Homo sapiens: one gene and its partner. The protein of the gene in region 2 purifies or fractionates together with the protein of the main gene of each other region. This does not show direct contact. Each region holds a gene or a part of one and is shown on either strand. Other genes may lie near its edges.

Region 1 (3,500 bases), on a different chromosome or scaffold from region 2:
GGTGATTATGTGTTGACGAGCAATCTAAGAGGACCCTGAAGTCTAAACTGATCCCTATTAGAGGTGCCACCTGGAAATGTTTCTCTCCTTCTATTTTTTAAACCAATAACACCTTCAAATAAGTAATATTAATATAATAAACACTTAACTAGCCATCAGATTCCATCAGCTTCTGTTCTAGTAGTATTTCAAAAGCCTTGTAAAACATTCTTTGTTAGCCTCCCTATGCCAGAGAAAGGCAGGTCAGAAAAATATTACTTCTTTATTGAGAGGAAATTGGAACACAGGTTAAGTGACTCATCTTTAACAAAAGAATATGTGGAGTCAGTTTCAGTGCCTGACTCCTTAGTAAGGCTGCCCCAAAGAAGTATGCTACGACAATTTCTTAACAATATATGACTCAAGTTCCTTTTAATCAAGAAAAATGTGCTTCAGTATCTAGGTTTCTGAGGTGTTCTCAAAAAACAACATAAAAAGATAACACACAAGAGTTCATTAACAATTCTCAAATATTCTGGTCTCACCCTTAAAAATCACTGAGTATACTAAAGAGCTTCATTTATGTTTTATCTACCAATATGTACTCTATTAACAATTAAAACTGAAAAAAAATTAAAAATTCATTTAAAAATAAAAATTACATGCTAATATAAATAACATTTTTAATCAAAAATAACTATTTTAAAAATACAGTGAGAAGAGGAACATACACATATATCTCTTTACTGCCTGCCTTAAGGGAAGACAGATAAATTCTCGTTTCTGTTCTGCATTCAATCTGTTGCAGTATCACCTTCATTAGTCTCTGGAAAACTCCACTATACACTCGTGAGAGAATGAGAATGAAAATGACATATGAAAAGAGTTCTGACCTCATGGACAGAGCCCTTAAAAGGGCTTCAAGGATCCTAGACCACATCTTAAGAATCACTGAAATAAAAACTATGAATGAATATGCATAGTATCATTCTATCCAAAGATATTTTAAGATTTCCTTACATCAAGCCTTAAATTCCATTGTCTCTTCCCCTCCACTCTCTCAATCAGTGGCTCCCAGACAGCATGGATCTCATTGTAATAGTGCACCTGGAAAGATACACACAAAATTATAAGACAGTCCTTTGGCTTTAATTACATATTTCTGTAACCAATAGGGAAATTATTAAGTAATCAATGTTATATATCATTAGCCATTTTCAAAACCCATCTAACAATATATAGAGTGTATTTTCCTTTACTCTCTTACTCTATTGTCATAAATTATTTAGCAAATCAATCTTTAAAAAATAATTATCAAAAAACAATACATCGACAAATTAAATGTCAGAACACACTATCTATTCACATATGTACTCATAGTGGCCATGCACAAACAAGAAAAGTGTATATCTTAATTCCAAAATCGCACTTTCAAGAAGTCTCTGAAGGTATTAAGTGATGTGGCCATACCTGTAGTGTCACGTCAGCAACAGCAGCCATTAGAGAAGTCCAATTTTTAATATTTCCTGAAAACTTAGACTCTGCCAATAATAAAGGTACAGTTCGATGTCCAAGGCCACATTCTAAGGTAACTTGAATGGATTCTACAACAACACCACAATTTTCCTCTATCAGTGAATGTTCAATGCCTTTGAAGCTTTCCGTTATTTCTGTTGCCGTGTCAACACCAAGAAACCAAGTGTTATAATCATTAATCGATTTGATACCCCAAAGATTTTCCATTTCCTTAGACGTATCTTTGGATCCATCTTCTTTTGTTTTTGGAGACAATGCAGCCATGATTGTCAACACAGTATTAAGAATTATGGGTGAAATCTTTAAAAAAGAAAGCAGAAAAATATTTATAATAAATTCTTTCCCAGATGAGAATATATACATACATGATTTTAAGTGACATACATTAATTATAAGTGACATTTTTAAATTAAATTTTAATTTTAAATTAAAGTAACTAATTTAAATTTTGAATAAATTCGTAACCAAGAAAAACAAGAGAGAACACAAAATTATGTGTCAAGCCAAGTAATCATGCAACACTGACTTCTACTCAGGTTATCTGGAATTAAATAACTAATGTTATATGTCAGTAGTCAAAATCTAAAGTTAAGCTGATCAATTCAGAGCAAAACAGTGTTATGTGAATAGACAAGTATAGCAATGTAAACAAATTCTTCATTTTAAAAACAGCTACATTAACTAAGCCAAAGTGTGTGATCCTTGTCAAGATACACATAAATATCGGTATGCAACAAGATCTTCTGAAAAAAAAAAAAAGGAAGAAAAAGATATACATTTGCCTTATTAAAGCTGGAAGACTCAAAATCACAGCTCTCCTTTGACTTACCCCAAGATCTATAAATCCTACCTCTTATTATCTTTGGACAGTGCCTTTCTTTGCTCACTTCCCTCACTTCCTATTACTGTGCCTTAGTTCTACACTGATGACATCTTCTACGGCCAACGCCCTCTCAGCCTACACTCCACACTGCCACCAGCATAATTTTTCTACAAACCAAATCTGAGTATGACATTCTTATGTTTAAAATCTTCATCAACTTCCCATAATTTTTTTATCCCACAAGATAAAATTGAAACTCTCTTTAACTTAATGTGCAGAGCTCTTTGTGGCCTAGTGCCTATTCAACCAGCTAGCCAGGATTCTCCCAAAGTTTGAGAAATACTAGGTTAAATAAGTTAACTGTATTCCTTTATTGTTCACTTCTCACAATCCTTACTTAAAATGTAAAGGGATATAATTATATCATCAAAAGCAGGATCTAGTATGTATTGTTTTCCTAACTTACTTGTCAACTTTTTTTCCGTGTCTTATTAATGTCACTTATAATTAATGCTTCCAGTCTTACAACGCCACCACACCATTCTCTCCAGCCATATGTGACCACCCCTCTAAATCTTTTTTTTTTTTTTTTTTTTTTGAGACGGAGTCTCGCTCTGTCGCCCAGGCTGGAGTGCAGTGGCGGGATCTCGGCTCACTGCAAGCTCCGCCTCCCGGGTTCACGCCATTCTCCTGCCTCAGCCTCCCAAGTAGCTGGGACTACAGGCGCCCGCCACTACGCCCGGCTAATTTTTTGTATTTTTTAGTAGAGACGGGGTTTCACCGTTTTAGCCGGGATGGTCTCGATCTCCTGACCTCGTGATCCGCCCGCCTCGGCCTCCCAAAGTGCTGGGATTACAGGCGTGAGGCCACCGCGCCCGGCCACCCCTCTAAATCTTAAAGGATTTTTTCACACCTCTGCCTTTGTGCATATTATCAGTTCTGTCTGGATAAACCTTTCCATGCTCCCCATCTATTTAATCTCCCTTCAAAACTCAAATCAAATAGTCCTGCTTCTACACAGCTTTCCCTGATGTCCTGGTCTGAATTAAAGGCCCCATGCCTGTGCTCCCAACTGCATCTTGGCCATGCCTCTAGCACTGAAAGCTGTAATCACTGATTTCTTTCTTTCTCCCGCATATGTCATTAAGTTTTTTGACAGCAG
Region 2 (3,267 bases):
TTATTTAGAATACGAATACAACCAAGTAGGGAAAAACGTATCAGTAACTGCTATTCAACTTAAATTCAGCGAATTAATAGCTGAATAGAAATAGCTAATGACAATGCAAAAGAGAAAACAAGCCATATTGCTAAGAAAAGGATAGTAAGCTGCTTAGAAAGAACCAGCCTGTGTTGGAAATAATTCTCTTCTAGATAATTTACCTTATTTTCTTGGCTTGTACTAATTGAATGGAAGTGGTTAATTTGTTCAGAGTTTATTGCCGTTTGATGCCACCCCAGTCTATAGTTCTGTGTGACTTTCCATATTGAAAGAGTAGGGTTAGTAGCCAGGTTGTCAGTCTTTTACAAATGTCTACATAAATGTCTACATAAATCTGAAAGTGGTTTATATTCAAGGTTAGTTTTTCAGTAGCGTCTCCTCCTTATTCATTCACTTTTACTGTGAAGACTGAAATCCAAAAGCCAGGTTCCCCAAAAAAGTATTTTTAAAAAATTTTAGGGGACCAAAATAAATAGAGGAAGACCAATATAAAAAAATATGTTCAACTATTCCATTTTAAATTTAAAGCAGAAAAAAAAATTGTGCCCCTCAGACCTAAAGGCAGCTTTAAATGTATATAGTTTGGTGAAACATTTGGGAAATATTAATTTGGAGGTTTAGAAGCATACGAAAAACAAATTCAAAGCACTTGAAAGTAAAGACAATATCATGAGGTCGAAAAAACTTCAAAAGGATATTAGGTAAGAGAAAATGTGAATGAAAGCAGTGAATTTCTGCCTCTCCTCGTATTTAGGGTACTTAAAATTACTAAAAAATACTGTCTTTTTACCATACAGCTAGATGGCCTGTATTATTCTTAATGTGGCCAAAGGAGTGAAGACTGATTAGGGTTTTAGAATTTGGAACTGTAGTCACATAAAGGCATCTTTTGCATTTCTTAAACCAGTAATCTACATTTTCTCCTGGAAATGGAGAAATATGAAATGTGCTGTGCATAGCTTTTGGAATAGAAAACAAAGTTTTAAAAGAATGGATATGTTTTCTTGCACAACTTGTAAAATTTTAATTAAAAAATTACCTCATTTTTCAATCCATAAGGTGCTTTGCTCAAGTTTGTGGGATGTTTGTACCATCCCATAAAAACCCCCTTCACCCAAACTGTATTTGAAATATGCAAAATTCATAACTAAGGGATAGCATTCCTTGGAGACTTTGTTTTGTTTTACTCTTGTTTACCAGCTGGGCCAACATGGTAGATATATGAGATTCACATATGGTTTCATTAAAGCACATAGGAAAGTGCTCAGTCAATATTTAATTAGTTTAATTAGATAAGGGAAAGGAGAAATCCTAAATTTGATGGATTCTTTTATACTGTGAATATATTTCCATCAGTGTTGGTAAGATATCAAATGACTATCAGTTGATCCCAGTCATCAGTGACTTATTTGCATATTTAAGCCCTATTCACAAGAGACCATAATCATTTTAATCTTATATTTTCCCTCAGGAAATTTAGGGACTCTGAAGCCCCTATTTTATTCTCTTGGAGTAAACTGTTGAGTGTAGTTACAAAAACTTTTATTTATGACTTAAAAAAAGTTTAGCTGCTATTTCAGTGAAAGTGTAAAATAAAACGGTCATGATTTTTTTCAATTACAGAATAGTTACAAATTTTACCATGTTCATCTATTCCACAGAGCATGTTAAAAACAACAACAACAAAAACCTAACAGCAATTACAACCTTGGTGTTGCGTTTATTCTAATCAGAGTGAATGATTATAATCACACTTTGCTATTTTAACATAAATTGGTGCTTTAGAGCATTAAAGAGGAAGCAGCAGGCCCTGTACTCAGTATTTATTATTTCTTGCCTCAGAATGCAAAACAACTTTAAAGTGTCTATATTCATATATATGTGCATTTCTTAAGATTTAAATACAAACTGTTGTTACTCCTTAAGCTTCAGGCTTTCTGCGAAAGCTCTAAGAATATCTTCATTACTATGCTTGGTCAACTGGAAGATGGTATTAATAAGGTCAGAATTAGGAATTGGATTGCTCTGTGGGTCCTCCGGTATTGTGCAGAGGAAAGAAAAATGTCTTTCACACCACAAACTGTGTGTCTGAACCCCAGCCAAACAAATGTGTTCCATTGGTCCAATATATAAGCATTAACAACAACAACAAAAAATTTAAAACAAGTAAATTAATGCATTCACATGATCACTTCTTGAAAATGGTTCAAAGCATGTTTTCCTGATGGTGGGATTGTTTAAATGACATGTTTTAAAGTTTTTAATACTTTATTAGTTATGAAGTGCTTCTTTTATATGTTAAGTTTAGGTTGCCAGTACTCATAATTTTTATTTCTGCAATTATGTTATAATGAGTTGTTTGCATGCCTACTTAACCCAAGTAAAACGATGCTGTTTGCTCTGGAATGTTCATCTTTTAGACAGGTTTTGGCTCATTTCCAATCATGGTGCAATATAGTGTAACATTCATTTGTTTTCATTCAACAGTTTTATTTTTGTCATAATAAATAATTACTTTTCCAATACGAAGTGAATCCAGTGTTTTCTTTTAAAGGTAAATCTGCTTTAAGTTATTTGCTTGCAAATAATAGAAACCCACCTATGCCAACAAAGAGAGGATAATTGGGGTGAGGTGGTGGAGGCTCACAGAACCCACGGAACAACTGGATTTGTAGAACAGACTGAGACTAGAGACTGGACCATTTAGGAGCAAGCAGGAAGTTACCTTTTTTCCTGCTCATCTGTTTCTGTCTTTCACCTGACTGGATTTCTCTGTTTCCTGATCCACATAACAGATAATGTCCCAAGTCCAGTAGCCTCCTAAATTTGTACAAGGGAGAAGTCAGATTATTGTTAGACTTTCAATTACAATTCCATATTCCCCAGGGAAATTGTTCATTAGCCTGCATTGGGTCATTTCCTCTCTCTGATCTAAACAACTGGCCAAGTGGAAGGTGCATTTACCAGAGAAGGGGAATCCCTGGCCTGGGAAGGTGATCCGGATTGGTGTGTACTCCATTGTGGGGTATAATTGGGATCATCTACCAAAGTTGTGTCCTTGTAAAAAATAAAATAAAATTGAGATCTAATAATGAGTGGGATAACATTTTCACTATGTTCATTCTTCACATTCCTCTAAAGTGGTTTTAACTCCACCGTTTTTGCTCACAGACCTCTTTGGGAATGTGATAAAAGTTGCCTACGTAGAAAAATGACTCATAATTA

Evidence for each region. The genes of interacting proteins can lie anywhere in the genome.
Region 1: the proteins of ARL5B (region 2) and VPS13C purify together in Homo sapiens (affinity purification with mass spectrometry; one large-scale study listed by BioGRID and IntAct). This does not show direct contact.

The regions. Positions count from the first base shown.
Region 1 is NC_000015.10:61,920,948-61,924,447, forward strand, and holds part of VPS13C (intermembrane lipid transfer protein VPS13C), read right to left. Parts: intron 1,816-3,500; coding exon 1,450-1,815; intron 1,087-1,449; coding exon 1,000-1,086; intron 1-999. UniProt on the Homo sapiens protein: Mediates the transfer of lipids between membranes at organelle contact sites. Necessary for proper mitochondrial function and maintenance of mitochondrial transmembrane potential.
Region 2 is NC_000010.11:18,679,073-18,682,339, forward strand, and holds the end of ARL5B (ADP-ribosylation factor-like protein 5B), read left to right. Parts: 3' UTR 1-2,567; downstream 2,568-3,267.